5 separate regions of the Homo sapiens genome follow, and regions 2, 3, 4 and 5 are each linked to region 1. Evidence: fine-mapped expression QTL. A gene starts in region 1. Each other region holds a variant in brackets. All regions are shown on one strand. Distances are between the middles of the regions.

Region 1 (5,105 bases):
GGTACAACACAGCCGCTACGGCATGGGAAGACCCAGGAGAATAAGGAACTGCACCTGCCTGCAGGGCCTCCTCCAGCTGTCACAAAGACAGGCAAAGGATCACATCTTCTGTCGAGCATCTGTGAAAGAATACATACACACATACAAGGGAAAGGTTTTTTTGTTTGGTTGTTTTTTTAGATGGAGTCTTGCTCCATCGCCCAGGCTGGAGTGCAGTGGCGGGACCTCGGCTCACTGCAACCTCCACATCTGGGGTTCAAGCGATTTTCCTGCCTCAGCCTCCCAAGTAGCTGGGACTACAGGTGCGTGCCACGATGCCGGGCTAATTTTTTGTATTTTTAGTAGAGACGGGGTTTCACCATGTTAGCCAGGACGGTCTCTATCTTCTGACCTCATGATCTGCCCGCCTCTGCCTCCCAAAGTGCTGGGGTTACAGGTGTGAGCCACCGCGCCCGGCCCCAGGGAAAGGTTTTAAGTCATTAAAAAAAAAAAGGAAGTTGATTCCAAGTCCATCCTTATACCATTACTTTGACCCACCATTCCCCGCTGCCCCCACCGTACAATTCTACACCAACCTGATCTCCTCATCCACAGGAATACAAGTGGGCGTTTTCACCATACAGCTATCTCTAAAGTCGTTTTACTTCTTCATATGAATTCAACACATAACTTTTGGATACCTACTCCTATATTTGCCAGGCACTGTGAGAAGTGCTAGAAATAGTAATGAATGAAGCAGACATTATCCAATTTCTCAATGAACTCTGTCTACTGGAATGCATAACCTAAATGTACAGATGTTATGATGTGATGTTATCTTAAACAAATACATAGCTTTTTGGGGCATTGAGTGCTCAAGTGAATAATCTGAAACCCTCTTTCATAAACTTTTACTCCTCAGCCTGGACAACATAGGGAAACCTGTCTCTACAAAAAATTAAAAACAAACTACCCGAGTGTGGTGGCACACACCTGTGGTCCCAGCTACTTGGGAGGCTGAGGTATGAGGACCACTTGAGCCCAAGAGGTTAAGGCTACAGTGAATCATGATCATGCCACTGCACTCCAGCCTGGGTGACACTGAGCCCCTGTCTCAAAAAAAAAAAAATAAACTTTTACTCCTTATTTACCCTAGAGTAGTGATTTTCAAATGATGGGTCACAAAACTAGCTTCTGGAGGTATGACAATAATTTTTGGAAAAATGGAATAGAAAAAAATATTGAAATGCAGCCTACATAGGTTAAGTACTGTTAAGTAATTTTTATTCCAGTTACATGTATATATCTGTGCGTTGCATCATGCTTAGAAAGTATTTGCTATTGCCAAGAAAGCATCCTTCTGCATCCATTCCAAGAGCATAACATGCAACAGATGGAAATTAGCTTGGTGTCATGGTTGTAATTCAATTACAACCTTAGAGACACCACTGGAGTTTTTGGAGGAAACAAATCACGTACCCTGATCATTCTGGCCAAGAAACACTCTCCCTGATGCAAATGACCTTTTTCTTACCTTATATTTACTAATTTTCAACAGCAGGTTTTAGGGTACATGTAAACTCTTCTGTCCTATTTCAAACATCTCACAGTTCACTCAGTTCTTTCTGTTGTTTTCTTCCCTTGTCTGTGTGTAAATATCCAACGCCCAGGCCCATATTCAAATTTTAAGAGAAAAACCTGGGACGTGGGCCTGCCAGATGGTTCACACCTGTAGCTTTGGGAGGCGAGGTGGGAGGAGCGCTTTGAGCCCAGGAATTGGAGATCACCCTAAGCAACAAGCGGAGACTGTCTCTGCGGGGAAGAAAAAAGATTAGCCAGGTGTGGTGGTGAGCGCCTGTAGTCCCAGCTACCCGCAGTGCTGAGGCAGGAGGATCACTTGAGCCCAGGAGTTCCAGGCTGCAATGAACCATGATTGTGCCACTGCACCCCAGCTTGGGCAACGAGACCCTGTCACAAACAAACAAGCAAACAACAAAAACAGAAACTGAGAAACCCAGGTTATGGCTGTGGAATATAATATGCAATACTTAGAAGGTTAAAAATTCTAGGTTTTGCCTCAGCTCCCATACCACCACCTTTGTTGCTCAATTTTCAGATAATCAGGCTCAGGCTATTATTTTTGGTTTTTCATATCATATTATCATTTTTCATATCCTATGATGTTTCATGTCCTATTGTCATTCTCATCCGGCTAGGCACTTCTCGGGGACGCTGTGTGGTGTTGAGGTTTTACAGGGAAAATGCTAACCTTGGCGCCTCCTGAATTATCAACTAGCTACGGGGTGCCCAGATTTTTCTCCCGAGTTCCAGACCCAGGGCACCCCGAGGCGGCGCCTGGCCGAGGAGCTCCGCACTGCGCCTTGTTAACAGCTGGGTCCGGGCAAACTCGCGCCACCTAATTCTCTGCCCTCTACCGGCTTGAGATGCTTATTCCTCAGGGAGGGCAAGAATCGAAACGATTGAGACCAACTATTTACAAGTGAGGCAACCGGGCTACAGGTGCCTCGAGGGAAAGGAGGCTGGGTCTGCGCTCCCACACCTTGCCGACGGCTCCACGTCCCTGTCTGCGCCCGAGGTCCACCGGTCTGTGAAGCCCACTTTCCCCGCCTCCCTCTCGCGTTGTGCCGCTTGGGGCGCCCGCTAGGACCCAAAATGCGGACTGGTGGGCCGCCCATCAAGGGTTGCCCGCGGTAGGGCGGGGGCTCCCGTGAGCTGCTCCCAAACCCCACTCGCAGGATGCTGCCCTGACGCCCAGGGCCAACCCGGGGAGCCAAGGCCCCCGGTCTCTGCAAGGCCGACCCCAGCCCGCTGGGGACCCTGCAAGCCCGCGCGTGGCTCCCAGCACGCCGGGCGTCCGCGGGGCGAGCTGCTCAGGGTCACTCGGGGTCCCTCGCCAATACAGGCCGCGCGGAGAGTGTGAGGCGAGCCCCGGGCCCGCGCCCCCACGAGCACCTACCTTCCAGGTACCCAACCCCAGGATGGGCATCTTGGCGCCGTTGTTGAGCAGGAGACGGCTTGCCATGGCTGCTGCGCTCCCCAGACCCCCGCCCAGTACGGTGCGGCCTTGGCCGCGGCGCGTACCTTTAAATAGCCCGTGAGGTCGGCAGAAAGGGCGCCTGCGGTTGGCGCGCCGCTGCGCGAAGGAGCCTTCTGATTGGTTGCGCTGGGGGTGCCGCGGCGGCCTTCCCCAAGGGTCGGCGGGGATGCTTCTTCCGCCTGGTCCTAGTGGCAGCGGATTCTTTCCGCCCCCAACGCTCGCCCGCGCCCCGCGTGGCAGAAAGGAGTTCCTCAGCTGCTGTATCTGGTGGGAAAGCGAATGCTTTAGCGAAAATAACAGGCATCCCATAAATACATAGACTAGAAATAAGTTTTGGTTTCATTAAGAGCCCAGAAGAATGCCTTTGTTGTCCAACCCCAGTTTGATGCTCTTTGGGAATCTGACGAATACCTTGTCCTTAATCTATGTGAATCATACTGACTACACATATAGTTTACCGCACTTTGTTCTTAGACAAAGGTGCATGCCAGAAAAATGGCTTGCAATCCTTTTGCAAAGCACCTTCACAAAATATGGGTTTGCCCAGACTTTTTGTAGCCTTCTAGATCTCTCTTTGCACCCCACTCTAGGTGTTAGCTGTGTCTGTGCATACTAGGTGTGGTTCAGCAAGCCTTCCACCAAAAGCCAGCATCCTTTGATGTTCTTGAGGTTAGAAAGCCTTGATGGGCTTGATCCAGAACTCTCAGAAGAATTTGGAAAGTAAGGCTGTCCATTCAGAATCAGTAAGACAAATTTCATCAGTCTTTGGAAAGTGAGACTCTATCAAAGCAGTAAGTTCCAGTACAGTAACTTATCAAAACTCTCTAGAGGAAGAAAAGTGAACAGACAGAAAACCACAGAAGAAAAAGTTGACTCTAATATTGTAGCTTCCAGTATTTCAAATTAGAAGGTACAAAATAGTAAATTGATCACCCTAATTGGCAGGTAGAAACACACATTTTTCCAAGATAGCCTAAGAAAAGTCACTTGAAGATCCTTGAAGACAATTTTGGTTTCTTTCCAACAACCTCTCTTCATGATACTCTACCTCACCCCAACTGCTCTTTCTGCTCCATCACCCTCCGATCTTTCCCCTAATTATGCAAGATTGGGAACTCCATCTGCCTGGTAGTGACTCAAGCACCAGGTCTCTCTAAACTCCATGCCGGTGATTTTCCATTTGGTGCTTTCTTTAAAAGTGCTCCCTCCTGGAAAAATTTATACAGAACAGACTAGCCCAGATATTTTTCCATGTAACTTTTGTAAAAATTGTTGCTATTGGGCAAATTCATTTGTCCCCAAGTAATAGAATTTGAACTTGAGCCTAAAGCTGGGAACTTGCTTTGTGTAAAACAGCAAGTTCCTTCCTCCATGAGAGTCCTCTTGACTTGGAGGTTGCTCTGCCAATTGAACCTCCTGGGTCCAAATCCAAAGAGCTAATCTCTTGTGAAAATGATACACCTTGAGTGGCCAGGTTGGTACACACAGAAGGGTCGTCTGTTAGGGACATGGACTCAATATCAGAGGCTTTGTTGTTGGTTTGATAATAATTGAGTATACAGCTTGATTGCATGAAGTTATAACTGTGTCTAAAGCTGGAGTGATACCTGTAGTCTCAGCTTCTCAGGAGGCTGAGGTGGGATGACTGCTTGAGCCCAGGAGTTAGAGACCAGCCTGGACAACATAGCAAGACCCTGTCTGTAAAATAAATAAATAAACCCAGAATATTTTGGCTGGGCCATGCAGACATGAAAAGTTGTATCAGTGGAATTTCTATAGCAACAATAGCACTCTAGTTGGGACATGCTATTGTGATAGCCCCCTAACATCCCCCATTGCCTCTGTAATCTTTGTAAAATGTACACATACCAAAATTTTTGATCTCAAGATTTTTGATCTCCCATCTTTTGATAAGTATACATATCAAAATTTTGTTTGAAAAAGGGAAAAAAACCTTCAATGGAATCCTCCTGAGAAACACTCTAGTAATTGGAATCTTAACATGCTCTGAACCAGTAATCTCCCATCATGGGAATTTTTCCTAAGGAAATAATTTAAAAGGAAAACA
Region 2 (5,105 bases), 130 kb after region 1:
TTGCTATGTTGTCCAGGCTGGTCTCGAACTCCTGGTCTCAATGATCCTCCCACCTCTGCCTTCCAAAGTGCTGGAATCACAAGCATGGGCCACCTCACACAGCCAGTTATCTGATTATATTTTCAGCATTTATATCTCAAGTAATGAGAACTTTGCAGGCCTTGGGGTCCTCAATGTCACAACTGTAAGAAATACAGTGAATCCATCCTAAAATTTATTCACAATTTTGTCTCAATTGTTCAGAAATAAAGCCACCATCATCATCAACTAAACCAAAGCTGCCATTAAGGGGAGAGAATCTAAGATATACACTACAGGTGTGTGTTAAATAACTCTTATGATAATGTAGGGAATTTGCCTTATGAAGAGAAAAGAAGGGGAATAACCACAGAGGGGAAGATGGTAAGTAAGGTCAGTGTGGAAAAGGAAGGGAGCTTGTCCTGGGAAGTAGGGAGGCAAGGAGTGAAGCTCTTGTGTTTCAAGTATTCTCTCTACTCATTGTCTAAGAGAGGGCTGGAAAAATGGGTTGCAACTAGCATGGAGATTCTGGAATCACTGTGACCATCCTGCCGGGCTCAGGTAGTTCAGAGGGCTAGACTTGCCCTCTTGTATTTAAGTGAGATCTGGCAAATGCTGGGCAGATGATGCCAAACTATAACTGGGACCTAAAGGGATTTGGATCTCCCAGCCAGACCCCTTAATGCCTGACTGTCCAGGGCTGCTCCAGTCATTTCAACAACCTTGCAACAACTCTGCACTTTACATGATTACAAATTTGGACCCAGCCAGTCCTGGTGGTTCACACCTGTAATCCCAGCACTTTGGGAGGCCGAGGCAGGAGGATCGCTTGAGGCCAGGAATTCGAGACCAGCCTGGGCAACATAGTGAGACTGTTGCTATATGAAATATTAAATTAACAAATTTGCATTATTGTGAGATTTAACTACTTATTGCATTATTGTGAGATTTAACTGTACATTAGAGTTTAAAATGTACAGATGAGAGAGGCTTCTGTAGAAAATAGTTTTCAGTAAAATTTGAAAGACCCTGAAGAGTGAAGATTGTTGGAAATAACCTTTTTTTTTTTTTGCTTTAATGCGTGTGCATGACTATAGACATGTAAATTCTGAACATAAAAATATGCAAAAATTAACCAGCAGTGGTGGCTCACATCTATAATCCCAGCACTTTGGGAGGCCGAGGAGGGTGGATCACTTGAGGTCAGGAGTTTGAGACCAGCCTGGCCAACATGGTGAAACCCTGCCTCTAATAAAAATACAAAAATTAGCTGGGTGTGGTGGCACATGCCTCAGGAGGCTGAGGCATGAAAATCGCTTTATCCCAGGAGGCAGAAGTTGCAGTGAGCCGGGATTGTGCCATTGCACTCCTGCCTGGGCGACAGAGTGGGACTCCGTCTCAAAACAAAAACAAAAACAAACAAACTAATAGGAGATAAACAAACTTGAACAAAACCATTTGGCAATTTTCATATAATCAAAAGAGCTTATTCATATCAATAAGAAAATTCTAAGATGCCAAAAAGAAAGTTGGTACATAAAAATTGACCAGTACATGACATGAAAAATTGTACTGACTAGTAATAAGAATGCAAATTAAAATAAGTTTTTTTCACTATCAAACCAACAAAACTTAGAAATAAAAGGAAAATATATCTAGAAAGATATGAATATTAACAGGGTTTTTTTCTATATTGTATGGCAACAGGTTTTTTTTGTTATTCTTTTACATAATTTTCAAAATTTCCACAATACGAAATGCACTTTTACAATCAAGAGAGGCATTAAGGATTTAGAAAATAGCAGAGATTTAGCTCAATTAGTTATTTTATACATCCACTGGGAAAACCAAATGGAAGAGACACTTTTACTTGAAACTATTCTCATTTAACAAGCCTTTCAATTTTAGAAAATACATATTCTGAATGTACAATGCAGTGGAATTTGATTACATTTAATTTAAAACTCTACCTAGTTCATTTGTTTTTCCTCATTTGTTGTCAGCATTTTCCCAGAAATTTCATGAAAGTTTTGCACCCTTAAAATCTTATAGTGTTGCCTTCCAGCACTTTTGTTGGTTGAAAAATATCAACCCCCAGATAAGTAAGGGAGAGTTGGTGGAGACCACGAGGACCTTGAACGTTACTAAAAAAATTACACAAGAGAGGTGCTTGTGCCCCAGGGCTTTTGCCCTTGCTATTCTCATTGCCTGGGATCTTCTGCCCTCTGATATTAGAATAATTCTCTGACTTGTATTTTTAATTTCTTTGCTGATTTATCATCTTCTCAGGGAGGCCTTTCTT[C/T]ATCACCCTATTTAAAATTAACCCATCTCCTCTGATACTTCCTCTTGCCCTTCTGTGTTTTCTTCTTCTCCTTAGCATTTATCAATATGTTATGTATTTTAAATATTTACTGTTTGCTTGCTTACCCTGTTTCTACCCACTGGAATGTAAGCTCTATGGGAGAAGGGATTCTCAATAATATCTGTTGAATAAATGGACAGATGGAATGGATGGAACAATGGATGGATGAATGGATGGATGGAGGGAGGGTGGCATAGATGGATGGATGGAAACATGAAGGACGGATGGAAGGATGGATGAAAGGAAGGATGGATGGAAGGATGAATGGAAGGAAGGATGGGTAGAAGGATAGAGGGATTGGGGATAGATGGATGAAATGATGGATGGATAGAAGGGTGGTTGGAAGGATGGATAGATGGAGGGAGGGAGGCATGGATAAATGGATGGAAGCAGGGAAGGAAGGATGGATGGATGGATGGATGGATGGATGGATGGAAGGATAGTTGGAAGGATAGATGGATGGGAAGTGTTTTTACTCCAATTTTACTTTTTAACTCCAATTTCAGATTTAAAAAAAAACTGAAGCTAGATTTCTTAATTGTTACAACCCATAATGCCTACTCACATAATCTGAAGTAATTTCATGAACTCTACGGCTAGTCATAAATTGCAAAGACTGTATAACATCCTTGAACTGGAACTGAGATAATCATTTTGGAGGCAGGGATGATATGTGGAGAATGTCAATCTTTAATTCATGATTGAAGTTTTACTTCTGCTCTCATTGAAGTCTAATAGTGAGAGGTAAAATAGGAATTGAGGCACCACTAATATTCTCTCCTTTCAATTCTGTTTGTTCTACTCCATGGTAGAAAATGGTGCATTGCTCTTATTAGCAATTCCTTCCTAAGTGTGAGTTGAATATGGCTTGCATATAGTCCCAGGATCTGCTTTCTACTAGGACACAGCATTCAGAAGTCCTGAGAAGCAGTGAGCAGAGAACAGCCATGGTACTGCTATCCATGAACCAAGAGATGCTGACAGCTCAAGTGAAAAGCAGGGGTAAAGGCAGCCTATATGTCAGACTCCTGGGGTATAGTTAAAGGCTGTCTTGATTGGAAAAAAACTATACCCTAGTGCTTCAACCTTGGGATAATCGTGAAGACTAAAAAAAGATAATGGTTCCTCTATATTTACTGATAAGCAGAATTCACAACCTTGCTTTCTTCCTATAAATAGCAATATTCTCATTATTCTAGTTTTTATTTCTCCATTAGTGTCTGTATTAGTTTTCCTGGTGAGAGACAGGACTAGCTGGGTTTCCTAGGCTGACTAAGAATTCCTAAGCCTAGCTGGGGAAGGTGATTGCACCCACCTTTAAACACTGGGCTTGTAACTCAGCTCACACCCAACAAATCAGGTAGTAAAGAGGGCTCACTAAAATACAAATTAGGCTAAAAGCAGGAGGTAAAGAAATAGTCAAATCATATATCACCTGAGACCACAGTGGGAGGGACAATGATCGGGGTATAAACCCAGGCATTCGAGCAGGGAGTGGCAACCCACTTTGGGTCCCCTCCCATTGTATGGGAGCTCTGTTTTCACTCTATTAAATCTTGCAACTGCACACTCTTCTGGTCCATGTTTGTTCTGGCTCAAGCTGAGCTTTCGCTCACCGTCCACTGCTGAACGCCACTGTCGCAGACCCTCCATTGACTTCCACCTCTCTGGATCAGGCAGGGTGTCTGCTGCATTTCTGATCCAGTGAGGCGCCCATTGCCACTCCCATTTGGGCTAGAGCTCACCATTGTTCCTGCGTGGCTAAGTGCCCAGGTTTGTCCTAATCGAGCTGAACACCAGTCGCTGGGTTCCATGACTCTCTTCCATGACCCACGGCTTCTAATAGAGCTATAACACTCACCACATGGCCAAAGGTTCCACTCTTGGAATCTGTGAGACCAAGAATCCCAGGTCAGAGAACAAAAGGCTTGCTGCCATCTTGAGAGTGGCTGCCACCATCTTGGGAGTGGCTGCCACCATCTTGGGAGTTCTAAGAACAAAGACCCACCCGTAACATTTGGTGGCCTGTACAGGGATTCTCTAAAGCAGTGAATAATATTGGGCCACTTTCGCTCGCTGTTCTGTCCTATCCTTCCTTAGAATTGGAGGAAAATACCTGGCACCTGTCGGCCGGTTAAAAATGATTAGCATGGCTGCTGGACTAAAGACTCAGGTGTGAGGCTTCCTGGGAAAAGGCTTGCTAACAGCTCCCAACCCTTCTGGGTTGGGAGCATTGGTCTGCCTGGAACCAGCTTCCACTTTCACAATTTTCCTGGGGAAGCCAAGGGTCGACTAGAGGCAGAAAGCTGTCGTCCTGAACTCCCGGCATTGGCCAGTCAAGATCATGGCACAGTCAAAAGTCTCTACTCAAAAGTCATCCATGTGTGTGCCCCTACCTCTCCTTCTGACCCATACCTCCTGGGTCCCAACCATGACTTTCTTGAAAGCGTAGCCCCAAAATTCTCCTTACCTCTGAATCTACTTCCTCCGATCCCTGCCTCCTAGGTACTAATGCTTCAGACTTTCACTTCCTCTCCCAAGTATTAGAGCAAGTTGTATCTCCAAAGGGATCTAAGGAAGTTCTATGCTGCAACCTTAGGCATCTAGGCTATGAATCCAGGGAGTCTTGTCCCTGGTGTCCCTCCCAATTTAGGCATACAGCTCTTGACATGGGCAGTTATGTGTGACCCATTCCCCACCACCCTTGCTGGGGCCTTAGAACTCA
Region 3 (5,105 bases), 51 kb after region 1:
AAACTAATCCCCAACGTGATAGTATTAAGAGGTGGAGCCTTTTGAGAAGTGATTAAGTTATGAGGACTCCACCTTCATGAATGGGATTAGTGCCCTTTTAAAAGAGGTTCAAGCAAGCTCCCTTGCCCCTTTCTGCCATCTGAAGACACAGCAAGAAGGCACCATCTTTGAAATGGAAAGCAAGCCCTCACTAGATGCTGAATCTGCAGGGGTCTTGATCTTGGACTTTCCAGCCTCCAGAATTGTAAGAATACATTTCTGTTCCTTATAAATTATCTAGTCTGAAGTATTTTATTATAGCAGCCCTCACAGACGAAAACAGATTCATGTTCCTTATCACCCCTGGCTTGTCCCAAGCTTTTAACCTTTATTCTATACCTAAACAATTGTCAGTGAATAAATCACAGCAATTTTTGGAACAGTGTTTCCCTGGGCCATCCTGAGCCTGGCCAATCCATCTTCCCTCTGGAAGTTGCAGCCGAGCATTTCTAGGGGCATCCTGAGACTTCTGTCATAGTCCTGCTCAGCATCTGGTGTTCCAGCAATGGGAAGAATTGGGCCTGGCTGCGTGTAAATGTTCCTCCTAGGAGGGCATTTATTTTCAGTAACAAAGACATCCCCAGTGACAAGGTTCTACTTCAATAAGTCTTGGGGCCATCCAAGGAGGTTTGGCTCCAAGTCAGCTCCTGCCCAAAGGATCACACTGTCTTCATTTTGAAGAACTGATGAACCACTCTGGTGCATCACTTGGAGACAGGCACTGGCAGAGGAAGAGGAAGATGTTCTTAAATATCATGTGCTATGCTCACCTGTGAACAAGTCTTTGAACATGCTGTGCTAGGTCTGACCCATAAGATGAATGCTATACAAGTCAGAAGTGATTAGGAGAGCCATCAAGATGCCATACTGAAATTTAGACACAGGCTGTGTCCATCAAGAAGCACAGGTTTTATTAAAAAGGACAAGGTGTATCTACCTCAAGTATTTTTGCTTTTGAAGAATGACCACTTATATGGCTTGCCAACATCTTCCTGGTTTCCTTCTGTAAGGCCTTTAAAGGTCATCTGGAAAAGTACCTGTGGTCTCTCTCATTTTCACCCATTCTTGCCGCAGGAACTGTATCTGTTCATTTACTAATTAATTCTTTACTCATCAAATAATACTATCTTCACAAAAACTGGTGAGAGAATGTAACTGTGCCTGGTTCCTGCTCTTAGGAAGCTTCCAGACTCAAGGAAGAGGATAAACACTTATATAATGTATAATGGTACAGGTGGTCTGAGTAAAATGCCAAGAAAGCACAAAGGATTTAGTGATTAACTCCCGGATTCTACCTGCAGGGGTTGAGAAGGACTGTATTAGTCTGTTCTCACACTGCTATGAAGAAATACTTGAGACTGGGTAATTTATAAAGGAAAGAGGTTTAATTGACTCACAGTTCTGCATTGCTGGGGAGGCCTCAGGAAACTTACAATCATGATGGAAGATTGAAAGCAAAGGAGAAGCAAGCACCTTCTTCACAGGGCAGCAGGAAGGAGTGAGTGCAAGCAGGGAAAGTGCCAGATGCTTATAAAACCATTAGTTCTCCTGAGAACTCACTCATGATCAAGAGAGCAGCATGGGGGAACCACCCCCCATGATCCTATTACCTCCACTTGGTCCTGCCCTTGACATGTGGGGATTATGGGGATTACAATTCAAGATGAGATTTTGGGTGGGGATACAGCCCAACCACATCAAGGACTTCACAGGGGAAGGTAGACCTGGATAGATGAGAGGACCTTGTCAGGCAGAGAAGGCAAAAACAGTTACAGAGACCTCACCAATGGTAGGACTGACCCTGTTCATGGCCCAGGCAGTCTCTAACCTCAAACCAACAGCAATGGTGTGAGCACACATGTGACGTGTGGTGGACAATAACAATGGCTGCCTCCTCTTCCTCACACCTCTTGCTTTTAGGCATTTTCTATCCTTAGCAGGCCAAAGTGACCCTTCCTGGAGAACATAGGAAGCAGAC[A/G]ATTTTGGGTTCATTCATTCCACCGGGAACTGCACTTATTATATAATTACATGTCCCTGGCCCTCTGGGGGAAACAAGGAAGCATTAGGGACTGTCCTTGTGCAAGAAGAACTTATAGTCTTAGTAGGAACAGCACAATACCAAGGCAAAGTTGAAAGTGTGAGTCACAGAAACAAAGGCCACAGCTTCTGTTCACTATGGGTATGTGAGGCCTTCCATATTTTATGAGATACAATACTGAACCTCATAAGCCCAAAAAATAGCTCTCTAAACTTTTCTCTAATTTTCTCTAGGAAATTAAGCTCAACTTATTTATAAAAATGTGCTCACACTGACTAAAGATTGTTAGACTCTGAAATTCAATGATCATAGTTATGATGCTGATGGCAATGTGTACTAGTGATGAGTAACCAACCATCCCTAATGCCCTATCAATAATTCAATGTCAATAGCATCAGTTGTTTTCTATTTCTATATATACCCAAGAACGTACCATCACCATCACAGCTATAGTTTTATGACACTATACATTTCAACTTATTTTTTATTTGAAATATTGATTGTCTATCCTAGGTCCAGCACTTTTTCAGGTGGGAAAATTCAAAAGAAAATGACAGGAAGAGGAAAATACCCTTGGGATGGGACATACTTAGTATCATCTCCCCATATACTCTACCTCAGAATGCAGACGTCTCTGTAATTGGAATAACAGAACCTCTTCCCCCTCTCTACCAATTAATTCACCTTCTCTACCAATTCGCTCTCAAGATTTCAGTTCAAGTTCCAAGCTTTGAAATGCAAATGTCCTAGGGAGGTAGCTGTTGGGTCTGGCTCATCAGGGACTCATGGATCATTTAGCTCCAAATGAATAAGTTTTCAATGGGCTTAATTAAAGAAGGGAGCAGAGAACCCCCCTCATGGGGACTGGGTCTGGGCTTGGGAGACCTGAAACAGCAAGTTGGGTACTGGAGCGAGGAAGGACTGGGGGAAGCTGTAGGTTGAGGCAGGCCCTGTGAATATAATGAGCGTATATATATATATTGGAGATGGAGCCTCGCTCTGTCACCCAGGTTGGAGTGCAGTGGTGCAATCTCGGCTCCCTGCAACCTCCGCCTCCGGGGTTCAAGTGATTCTCCTGCCACAGCCTCCTGAGTAGCTGGGATTACAGGCATGTGCTACCATGCCCAGCTAATTTTTTAGTAGAGACGGCATTTCCCCATGTTGGCCAGGCTGGTCTCTACCTCCTGACCCGAGGTGATCCACCTGCCTCGGCCTCCCAAAGTGCTGGGATTATAGGCGTGAGCCACCGCACCTGGCCATGAGTTTATATTATAATTGCTTCTTAGCACAGAGGAAACAAGAGAGTGCCTAGTATGCGTGAACAAGGATGCAGAGAAAAAGGGAGAGGGCTAGAGTGAGAGCAACAGAGAGACAGAGGAGCTGGAGAATGTACTTATTTTAGAGATACCTCCAGGGCTAGATCTAGGGCAGGCCCTGGTATCAGTTCCTCCCCTTCTCCTCCTGCTTGTGTGTCCCTAAGGAAATTCACGAGAAATTCACACAGTGAATTTCTTCCTGTCCTATGCTCTGTTTTCTTTCACCTGTAAAAAAGGGAGTGGGAAAGTAAGGTAGAGAATAAAGGCAGGGCCAGAGGGAATGAGGGAAAAAAAGCCTAGGGAGGCGTCAGCAGGCCTTGGCCTCTGTTATCTGTTTCCTGAGAGCACAGAATGTCTCATTCCTATGGGTGCTCATTCCGTTCTCTGTGGCCTTTATAAAGGCTGTGCAGTTTTTCAGGTCAGTGCCGTAGATTCCTACATCATTATCACAAGCTCCCACAGTGATGGCTGTTCTTCCCCAAGGGCGTCTCATGTGGCCCTGGGCCCAGAGCTACCTTCAAAAACCCATCTGCGGGGCCTGGGAAGCCTTCTCTTCTCTTACCAAAGCAACTCTGAGACTACTACTCAAAATGTCTTATTCTGCAGAAAGACAAATATCCTTCAAATATTTGTCCCTCAAATATCCCTCAAATATTCTGCAGAAAGACAACTATCCCTCAGGGGCTTTGAGCACCAAGGAAGAGCCTGGCTTCTCAGCCTTGGAACATGAGAGCACAGCTTCTTTGCTGACCTTGGTGTGTGTTTATCACAGGTGACACATAAAGCTTTCTTTCAGACCCAGGACATAGGCACACAGCTTCTCGGTTAGCCTCCCAAGTTTCTGAAGCCCTGATTGTGGGTGTGGGGACTTTGTGCAAGCCAGGGTTATGTTCTTGGAGGGGGTAGTGTTGAAGCCCTGTTTTTCAGACCCTGGACATCTGCACGTAACTGCTCCACTGGCCTAGGGGCATGTCAGGTGCTTGGTGGGTTGAGGACCTGTTCTCCTTGGGGGAGAACACATAGTTATTTGGCTGGCACAAGAGCAGGTTCATCCTGGGTGAGACTGCTAGGTTATTCTTCCAGCTGTATTGGAGATAGCATGGGTTTGTTTCACTGTTGTGCAGGACAAGAGTCATAGCCAATCCTGGGACCAGCCTCTGTACAGTTGGGTACCATGTGGGTTTGGTGGAATGAAGATAGAGCCCCAGTGCTAGAGAGGCACAATGACTATGGCCCCAGAGCAGGGCACACTCCGGCAGTAGGTCTGTTCTCAGGATGGCTCCATGGCTCAGTGGCGTAAGGCGGAGTGCACACCTTATGCACCTCACCTGGAGTGACACAGCTGAGTGAATTCTCAGCAGCTTTCCAAACTGGACTCAGCGCTTACCAGGATGTGGGATTCTCCCATAGTAAGGACTGGAGGTGTTTGCAGTGGCAAGGGGTGACAGGGGGTTCTTCTGTTTACCTTTTTCCCCTAAGAAGTAGTCCTCTTATCTCTGGGCCAGTCCGATCCAGGTGGGTGAGATGGGGCTGCGGAGGCCATGTGCCTCCATCCTGTCCTCCTGAGCCTCCAACCACCTCAGAAGCATCTCCACTCCCCTGCTTCACTCCATCGCTCTCCTTTTGGCACTCCAGTCAAATTTCAGCTGTATATTTATTGCCTTGGTCCTTTCTTGTAGGGAAGATAAGGGTCAGGCATCTCTAGTCAGCCA
Region 4 (5,105 bases), 130 kb after region 1:
AGATCAGACACTAACCCCAAATGAGAGAAGTGCTGCCATAACTGCAGCGCAAGAGTTTGGCAATCTCTGGTTTCTCAGTCAGGTCAATGATAGGATGACAACAGAGGAAAGAGAACAATTCCCCACAGGCCACCAGGCAGTTCCCAGTGTAGACCCTCATTGGGATGCAGAATAAGAACATGGAGAATGTTGCCACAGACATTTGCTAACTTGCGTGCTAGAAGGATTAAGGAAAACTAGGAAGAGGCCTGTGAATTATTCAATGAGGTCCACTATAACACAGGAAAAGGAAGAAAATCCTACTGCCTTTCTGGAGAGACTATCGGAGGCACTGAGGAAGCATACCTCTCTGTCACCTGACTCTATTGAAGGCCAACTAATCTTAAAGGATAAGTTTATCACTCAGTCAGCTGCAGACATTAGAAAAGACTTCAAAAGTCTGCCTTAGGCCCAGAGCAAAACTAAGAAACCCTATTGAACTTGGCAACCTCGGTTTTTTATAATAGAGATCAGGAGGAGCAGGCAGAACTGGACAAACAGGATAAGAAAAAGGCCACCACTTTAGTCATGGCCCTCAGGCAAGCAGACCTTGGAGGCTCTGGAACAGGGAAAGGCTGGGCAAATTGAATGCTTAATGGGGCTTGCTTCCAGTGAGGCTTACAATTACACTTTAAATAAGATTGTCTGAATAGAAATAAGCCATCCCCTTGTCCATGTCTGAATAGAAATAAGCCACCCCCTTGTCCATGCCCCTTATATCTAGGGAGTCACTGGAAGGCTCACTGCCCCAGGGGATGAAGATCCTCTGAATCAGAAGCCACTAACCAGATGATCCAGCAGCAGGACGACTGAGGGTGGCTGGGGCAAGTGCCAGCCCATGACATCACTCTCATAGAGACCCGGGTATGCTTGATCATTGAAGGCCAGGAGGTTAACTGTCCCCTGGACACTGGCACAGCCTTCTCAGTCTTACTCTTCTGTCCTGGACAACTGTCCTCCAGTTCTGTCACTGTCCGAGGGGTCCTAGGACAGGCAGTCACTAGATACTTCTCCCAGCCACTAGGCTGTGACTGGGGAACTTTACTCTTTTCACATGGCTTTCTAATTATGCCTGAAAGCCCCATTCCTTTGTTAGGGAGAGACATCCTAGCAAAAGTAGGGGCCATTATACACTAGAATTAGGAGAAGAAAAAAGGGTGAACATATATACAGACTCTGAGTATGCTTACCTAGTCCTCCATGCCCACGCAGTAATATGGAGAGAAAGGGAATTCCTAACTTCCAAGGGAACACCTATCAAACATCAGGAAGCCATTAGGAGATTATTATTGGCTGTACAGAAACCTAAAGAGGTGGCAGTCTTTCACTGCTGGGGTCATCAGAAAGGAAAGGAAAGGGAAATAGAAGGGAACTGCCAAGTGGATATTGAAGCCAAAAGAGCTGCAAGGTGGGACCCTCCATTAGAAATGCTTACAGAAGGACCCCTAGTATGGGGTAATCCCCTCCAGGAAACCAAGCCCCAGTACTCAGCAGAAGAAATAGAAGGGGGAACCTCACAAGGACATAGTTTCCTCCCCTCAGGATGTCTAGCCACTGAAGAAGGAAAAATACTTTTGCCTGCAGCTAACCAATGTGAATTACTTAAAACCCTTCACCAGACCTTTCACTTAGGCATTGATAGCACCCATCAGATGGCCATATCATTATTTACTGGACCAGGCCTTTTCAAAACTATCAAGCAGATAGTCAGGGCCTGTGAAATGTGCCAAAGAAACAATCCCCTGCCTTATCGCCAAGCTCCTTCAGGAGAACAAAGAACAGGCCATTACCCAGGAGAAGACTGGCAACTAAGTTTTACCCACATGCCCAAATCTCAGAGATTTCAGTATCTACTAGTCTGGGTAGATTCTTTCACTGGTTGGGCGGACGCCTTCCCTTGTAGGACAGAAAAGTCCCAAGAGGTAATAAAGGCACTAATTCATGAAATAATTCCTAGATTTGGACTTCCCCGAGGCTTACAGAGTGACAATGGCCCTGCTTTCAAGGCTGCAGTAACCCAGGGACTATCCCAGGTGTTAGGCATACAATATCACTTACACTGCCCCTGGAGGCCACAATCCTCAGGAAAAGTCAAGAAAATGAACGAAACACTCAAACAACATCTAAAAAAGCTAACCCAAGAAACCCACCTTGCATGGCCTGCTCTGTTGCCTATAGCCTTACTAAGAATCCTAAACTCTCCCCAAAAAGTGGGACTTAGCCATATGAGATGCTGTATGGACCTTCCTAACCAATAACTTGTGCTCGACTGAGAGATGGCCAACTTAGTTGCAGGCATCACCTCCTTAGACAAATATCAACAAGTTCTTAAAACATTACAAGGAGCCTGTCCCTGAGAGGAGGGAAAGGAACTATTCTACCCTGGTGACATGGTATTAGTCAAGTCCCTTCCTGCTAATTCCCTGTCCCTAGACACATCCTGGGAAGGACACTACCCTTCATTTTATGTACCTCAACCATGGTTAAAGTGGCTGGAGTGGAGTCTTGGATACATCACACTTGAGTCAAACTCTGGATACTGTCAAAAGAACCCGAAAAT[C/T]CAGGAGACAACACTAGCTATTCCTGTGAACCTCTAGAGGATCTGTGCCTGCTCTTCAAGTGACAACTGTGAGGAAAGTAACTGAATCATAGATCCCCATGGCCCTCCCTTTTCATATTTTTCTCTTTACTGTTCTCTTATCCCCTTTTACTCTCACTGCACCTCCTCCATGCCACTGTACTACCAGTAGCTCCCCTCACCAAGAGCTTCTGCGGAGAATGTGGCTTCCTGGAAATATCAATGCCCCATAGTATAGGAGTTTTTCTAAAGGAAACCCCACTTTCACGGCCGACACCCATATGCCCCTGCACTTCAGGCCTACATTTCAATCCCTGTACCTTTAACCTCCTTGTTAAGTTTGTCTCTTCCAGAATCAAAGCTGTAAAACTACAAATGGTTCTTCAAATGGAGCACCAGATGCAGTGCATGACTAAGATCTACCGTGGACCCCTGGACTGGCCAGCTAGCCCATGCTCCGATGTTAATGACATTGAAGGCACCCCTCCCGAGGAAATCTCAACTGCACAACCCCTGCTACACCCCAATTCAGCAGGAAGCAGTTAGAGCGGTCGTCAGCCAACCTCCCCAACAGCACTTGGGTTTTCCTGTTGAGAGTGGGGACTGAGAGACAGGACTAGCTGGATTTTCTAGGCCGACTAAGAATTCCTAAGCCTAGCTGGGGAAGGTGATTGCACCCACCTTTAAACACTGGGCTTGTAACTCAGCTCACACCCAACAAATCAGGTAGTAAAAAGGGCTCACTAAAATACAAATTAGGCTAAAAGCAGGAGATAAAGAAATAGTCAAATCATATATCACCTGAGACCACAGTGGGAGGGACAATGATCGGGGTATAAACCCAGGCATTCGAGCAGGGAGTGGCAACCCGCTTTGGGTCCCCTCCCATTGTATGGGAGCTCTGTTTTCACTCTATTAAATCTTGCAACTGCACACTCTTCTGGTCCATGTTTGTTCTGGCTCAAGCTGAGCTTTTGCTCACTGTCCACCACTGCTGAATGCCACTGTCGCAGACCCTCCATTGACTTCCACCTCTCTGGGTCCAGCAGGGGGTCTGCTGCATTTCTGATCCAGTGAGGCACCCATTGCCGCTCCCATTCGGGCTAGAGGCTTGCCATTGTTCCTGTGTGGCTAAGTGTCTGGGTTCATCCTAATCAAGCCTAATACTAGTCACTGGGTTCCATGGTTCTCTTCCATGACCCACGGCTTCTAATAGAGCTATAACACTCACCACATGGCCCAAAGTTCCATTCCTTGGAATCTGTGAGACCAAGAACCCCAGGTCAGAGAACAAAAGGCTTGCTGCCATCTTGAGAGTGGCTGCCACCATCTTGGGAGCTCTAGGAACAAAGACCCACCCCATAACACTAGTGTGGCTGTAGCAAATTACCACAATCTTAAAACACCAGAAATTTATTCCTGCATAATTCTGGAGGCCAGTAATCCAAAATTTACGTGTCATCAGGGCTATACTCCCTCCGAAGTGTCCAGGAAAGAATCCTTCTTGCCTCTTCCTAGCATCTGGTGGTTGCTGGCAATTCTTGGGGTTCCTTGGCTTGTAGCTGCCTCCCTCTGATTTCTGCCTCTGCCTTCACATGACCTTCTTATGAGGACACAAGTCATTGGATTTATGATCCACCTTAATTCAGAATGCCCTCATCTTAATTTAACTAACTCCATCTTCAAAGACTCTATATTCAAATAAGGTCACAATCTGAGGTTCTGAGTGGACATGGACTTTGGGGGGACATGATTCCACCCAATATAGGGTCTGACACATTGTCCTGCTTGTAGTTGAATGCTCAATATTTATGAGTATATACTTAGGGACTTTTGTCTATTTGTTTGTTTGTTGAGACAAAATCTCATTCTATTGCCCAGGCTGGAGTGCAGTGGCATGATCTCGGCTCACTGCAACCTCAGCCTTCTGAGTTTAAGCCATTCTCCTGCCTCAGCCTCCTGAGTAGCTGTGATTACAGGTGTGTGCCACCATGCCCGGCTAATTTTTGTATTTTTAGTAGAGATTGGGTTTTGTCATGTTGGCCAGGCTGGTGCTTGTGCCCCAGGGCTTGTGGCACTTGTGCCCCACTCCCGACCTCCAGTGATCTGCCCACCTTAGCCTACCAAAATGCTGGGCTTATAGGCGTGAGCCACTGTACTCAGCCAACATTTTTTATCAGAACTTACTTTCTCATTCATTCATTACCTAAGTAGCTAAAACAGCATCTCTTGATATAATCTGATTCATATTTAGCCACTGCTCTTCTCAGTAGCCTGTTTGTTTCTGTACATATTCATTCTCCAGTCTCCCTGGATTCTCATTGTTTTATCCAAAGCAAAGCATTCTCAGTTGTGTCTGAGAGTGTTGGCAGCTTCCCCAGCACCATGACTTTGCATTTGTGCTCTCTGACATGGAAATTTGGACTCAAGCAGTTTAGTCCCACAATTGACATTTACTGACCTTGTGGAAGAAACAAATTGCCTGATC
Region 5 (5,105 bases), 140 kb after region 1:
GTAATGTATGGTTTTGAGTCTCAGTAGGTCACATGCCCCCCTAGTCCACTGGATCTGCACCCAGCTCAGCACTAGGATTTGCCTAAGAATTGCAGTCCTTGTGGCCCAGACTGCCCCACAAGTTCACTTAGGGTCCCAGAGCACTCCAGCCCACAGTGGCGAGGCTTGCTGGAACTCAAGCTCTGATTGCTGGGCTGGGTGACTTCGCTTTGGCTAGGGCCAATCCAAATGCTCCGTCTGTGGGCAGACATCAGCTGAATACAGCCTGGATCTAATTTCCACTATGAGAGGGCCACTCTGAGTTCAATGCAAAGCCTCACAATTGCTGCACTCTCTCTCTCCCAAGAGACCAGATTCTTTGTACACAGCTGCTGCCGTGGGGTGGGGGAGGGGTGGCATCAATGCTTCAAGTCTGTCTTTCCTGCTCACGTCACTGTCTCTTTCAGTGATACGAATTTCAAATGAGGTAATGTGATTGCTCACTGATTTTTGGTTCTTGTGAGAGTATTTTTATTATTATTATTATTATACTTTAAGTTTTAGGGTACTTGTCTTGTGAAAGTATTTTTGCATGCAGTTAGTTGTTAAAACGTGGTGTTCCTGCTGTGGGGACGAATGGTGTAGGCTTCTATTCAGCCATCTTGCTCTGCCTCCCCCATATAAATAATTAATATACATTCAAGAAACATCAATGGATGCTGAAACCAGTGGGTAAACATTTGATGAGGAATAGGATATCTGTCTCATCTCAAAGTACCTCTTTACAAAATGCTTATTAATTACTAAAAGCAGGTACTTTACAACTGAGAGACTAGCAGATCTCACTTGTATTAGTTTTCTATTGCTGCATGACAAATTACCACAAACATAACAGCTTGAAACAACCCATTTATGGTCTTATAGTTCTGTAAGTTAGAAGTCCAGGCAGTCCCCCTGAGTTCTTTGCCTAGGGTCTCCCAAGGCTGCAATCAAGGTGTTGGCCAGGCTGGGCTCTTCTCTGGAGGCTTTGGGGAAGAATCCCTCTCCCAGAATTCAGTTCCCTGCTACAATTAGACCAAAGTCTCTATTTCCTTGCTGGCTGTCAGATGGTGGTTGTGTTCCATTCCTGGAGGCCAATCACACAGTTCTGTGCTGTGGGTCTTCTCCATCTCAACAAGGTAGAGCTTCTCTGGAGGTGAATCTCTGCCACATCTCGAATATTTTTGACTTCTGCCATCAGCTCTCAAAAACTCTCTGCTTTTAAAGGCTGGATTTATTTAGATTAGGCCTACTTCGGTAATTGTCCATTTGCAATATAACACCATCATGGGAGTAATATCATGAGCCAAGGTCATAGGGCCATCTTAAAATTCTGCCTACCATACAATCTTAATCAAGTGATCAATTTAATATTACTAGTAATAGGACAAATTGAAATTGTGTACCACTTGATAGTATGCAGTGTGAAGAATCCGGCTTCAAATCTGTGATATCTCTGCTAAAGACGTATAATTTGAATCTAAACACTAGGAAACATCAGACAAACCCACAATGAGATAAATCCCACAAAATTAGTGGTCTGTAGTGTTTAAAATAGTCAAAATTATGAAATCATAAAAACTGAGAAATGGTTCCAAATCAAATAATATTAAAAAGACATGATAAATGAAATATGTAATTTTAAAATGGATCATTTGGCTAAAATGGATATTACTGGGGCAACTGAAAAAAAATTAATGATGTCTGAAACAAAATGATAGTAATGTATTAGAATTAATTTCCTCATTTCAATGGTTTAAATATAGTAAGAGGTGTAAGTCTTCGTAAGAATTGCACACTAATGCATTTAAGGGTGATGGGGTATCATGTTGGTAAAATACTCTCAAATTACTAAGGAAAAAAAGTTCTTTGTACGATTTCTGCAATTTTTCCTGAAATTTTTTTCTGAAATTATCCAAAAGAGAAAAAAAGAATCATTAGTTAGTTAATAAAGAAAATAAAAAAGACAAACTAGATACAAAGCAGAATTGAAAAGAAATGATTTGGGGAAGAATCTTACATATTCTTTTTAAAATCCATTTTATTTTATGTTGAACATTAAAAAAAACACCAAACATAAGGGTCTGTCCCCTTTACCAAATCAGTTTGCAAAAATGGAAAAATTGTTAACTGGGAAGAAACGTCACTAAATCAATGTGAGTAATAAAACTGGTTTTGCTGGCCATGGTGGCTCACGCCTATAATCTTAGCACTTTGGGAGGCCAAGGAGGGAGGATCTCTTGAGCCCAGGAGTTTAAGAGCAGCCTGGGCAACATGGCAAAACCCTGTATCTACAAAAAAGACAAAAATGAGCTGGGCATGGTGGTGTCAGCCTGTAATCCCGGCTACCCCAGGGGGCTGAGGTGGGAGGGTCTCTTGAGCCCGGGAGGTGGAGATTGCAGTGAGGCATAACCATGCACTCCGGCCTGAGCCACAGAGCAAGACCCTGTCTCAAAACAGAAACAAAAACAAACTTGTCTGAGTAGTTCTCAGACAATCAGTGTATCAAAATGGCAAAGCAGAATTTCAGAAGGACAGAAAAACAGTATTTGTTTCTACAGTATATTAAGAAGGTGATAAATGTTTTTAAAAGTATACAGAAATGTCAAGAGTTTTGTCATGGTCCCAGGGTTACAGAAAGACAATGACCTTCCTTTATGTGGCAATAACAGGGGTTATAACAGTTTTTAAAAACATTTCATAAGCAGTGAATATTTACTGATCATTCATGTTTCTCCTGGAATTCAACGCTTAATCAATATACAGGGTCTAC[C/A]TTTTGGTTTCTGTAAAAACAAAAATCACCCAAGCTTAGGTTTTTTAATTGTCTTAGTAACATTATCAAACTCTAATCATCACCTGAGACACACATTTAAGGTTCTACTTTTTTTTTATAATAAACTGTAATGACTTCCACAGGTTGGTTCTCTGCAGTTTGGATTTCCACGTCCAGATATGGTCTGATCAAATGTTAAGTTTGCTGGCTGAGTTCTCGGCACCATGACTTTGCAGATGCACCTTGCTCACCCTGTCTTTAGATTTGGGATTTTGACTTTTGTTTGTACAAGATACATCGTTGTCACTCTCTCCCACCAAGGCCAGGGCTGTGGACTCTTGGAGGAGAGCAGGCTTGTGAGAATCAGAAACAGCCACATGTCCCCAGCTCATTCTTTCTCTTAAGAACCTCTTTTCCTGGTGCTAGTTATTGTAAAAAAAAAAAAAAAAAAAAAAAAAGTCCCAAAAAAGTTATTTTAAAAAAGTCCCACATCTCCCATGTATACTCTTCAGAAGAAACCACATGCCAAGTATTTTCTTAAAAGTACACAATCAGAAAATTAGTAAATTGGTAAAGTTAGAAACTACAACCCTTCCTAAAGTATTAATATTCCCACATCTGCCAAAAATAAAGTTCCCCCTCTTCTGCTTGCCTCTCAGATAATTTAACGTCAGAAGAGGCTTTTTCTGAACCCTATACTTTTTCTTGGCAACAATTTGGAGCTAGCCCTAAAGGCACTGGAACTCTTGAATCTGCTTCCTTAATTTCTGCTTCAGCTCTCAGAGGGAACAAGTGATCTTGGGAAAATACAACTTTCGGCTCCTTTTGTCTCCTCTGATTCCAACACTAAAGGGGCAGCTTCTGTCCGTTTAGCTTCACTTGATTTATTTATAAACAAACAGTTAATATTCTAAAGCAGAAAATCCTGCTGCAATTGGCGTGTCCTAATGTTTTGTAACTTAGTTCCGTTCTACCCACAAGCCGGAAACCAAGCATCCAGACAAGGACTTTAAACACTTGCTTCATCGTCATATTATCAGCTGCAATTTCACCCATTATGCATTCACTAGGTACAAAGCAGCACACTCATAGCGGCAAGCTCTACCACCTGAAAAACTAACAGCTTTGTCTCACTGGAGCCCTGCCCTTTTTCTGTGCAAGATGTGAGCTAGGGCTGGTAGAAAAGGTAACTCCAAGGCTAGCATGCAGCCGTAGGCTTCAGGCTGCAGGAGAAGGGATGTGGCTGATTTAGGAGGTTTAGCATGTGCCTGCCAGTCTAGAAGTGGAACCAAACGCATGTTCGCTGCTTGCGGAGTCTAATTAACAAGAGCGAGGTCTGGTAGAAAGAAAGTGACTTTATTAACCAACACTAGTAAAGGGGAAGCTGCTGGATTCCTCCTATCCAAAGGAACTGCTTTGTATCTAGCGGGGAAAGCAAGAGTTCAAAATGGGAAAACTTGGTAAGGAAGGCATGCAGGAATTGTGCTGATTCCAATGCCTGTGTGTCTTGCTCTGGTGGCTGTCTTGGGTCCCAGGCCACCTGGATCTCAGGCTGGCATCATCTTAACAATGGCTGGGTTGTTGACTAGTCACCTTGAAGTCATCTCTGGAATTCTGTAGCGGGGTCTCCAGACTTGGTCTGCCTAAAAATTAGCCCCATAATAATTATGTGCCTTTAGACACTAGCATGCAGTTAGATAAATGTGAAGGGACTATATTCGGTGAGAAAGAGGGACGTGGAGTCCATTTTAAGGCTAAGGAAAAAGGCTTCTGCAGTTTGCTTCAAGGTTATATGTTGAAATCCAAGAGAAAGGAAAAAAAACGTTTAAAATGCATTTTGAAGTTAAGTTGCCTAGTTACAGAATCATAGACTCGAGGCTGGTGGGGCCCAGAGGCACTGGAGGTCTTCTAGATCTTCAATATTACACACAGTCTGGCTAATGTTTAAACACCTCTAGGGATCAGGAATTCACTTCCCAACGAATATTTAGGAGAAAATCTTGTGTTTAGCAAGTCTTTCTTAACGTGCAGCTAAAATGCCATCTTCCTTTATCCTCCATTTGTAGATCTCAATTCTGCATGCAGTGACGGCACGGAACGGGTCTTTTCCTATTCCTAATGAAAGCCCTCCAAATATTTGATATAGGTCTTATATTCCTATGTTACACCCAATTGTTTTTGATGAATACCCCCAATTAATGGATACAGTTCAAATTCCACAAATTAAATTCATTTTTAAATTCAATTTATTAAAAATTGATTTATTAGTTTACTAATATTGATACATCAATTAAATTACATAACCTCAATTAAT

The links. PIP is the estimated chance that this variant, and not a neighbour inherited with it, causes the effect.
Region 2: its variant is the best candidate, but not a certain one, in a credible set for the expression of AKR1B1 in whole blood (INTERVAL, PIP 0.88).
Region 3: its variant is the best candidate, but not a certain one, in a credible set for the expression of AKR1B1 in whole blood (TOPMed, PIP 0.85).
Region 4: its variant is the best candidate, but not a certain one, in a credible set for the expression of AKR1B1 in whole blood (TOPMed, PIP 0.66).
Region 5: its variant is the best candidate, but not a certain one, in a credible set for the expression of AKR1B1 in whole blood (INTERVAL, PIP 0.67).

What each region holds. Positions count from the first base shown.
Region 1 is chr7:134,456,041-134,461,145 of GRCh38, forward strand. It overlaps AKR1B1 (aldo-keto reductase family 1 member B), which reads right to left and starts at 3,060. Exons shown (of 10, transcript NM_001628.4): 1 at 2,957-3,060. The coding sequence starts at 3,022. RefSeq lists a silencer at 2,670-2,859.
Region 2 is chr7:134,581,805-134,586,909 of GRCh38, forward strand. No RefSeq gene overlaps it. Among named protein-coding and RNA genes, the nearest start is that of AKR1B15, 35 kb to the left of the region's middle. The variant C/T (reference allele first, on the strand shown) is at 2,321.
Region 3 is chr7:134,507,053-134,512,157 of GRCh38, forward strand. No RefSeq gene overlaps it. Among named protein-coding and RNA genes, the nearest start is that of AKR1B10, 18 kb to the right of the region's middle. The variant A/G (reference allele first, on the strand shown) is at 2,018.
Region 4 is chr7:134,589,032-134,594,136 of GRCh38, forward strand. No RefSeq gene overlaps it. Among named protein-coding and RNA genes, the nearest start is that of AKR1B15, 42 kb to the left of the region's middle. The variant C/T (reference allele first, on the strand shown) is at 2,600.
Region 5 is chr7:134,599,263-134,604,367 of GRCh38, forward strand. No RefSeq gene overlaps it. Among named protein-coding and RNA genes, the nearest start is that of BPGM, 45 kb to the right of the region's middle. The variant C/A (reference allele first, on the strand shown) is at 2,792.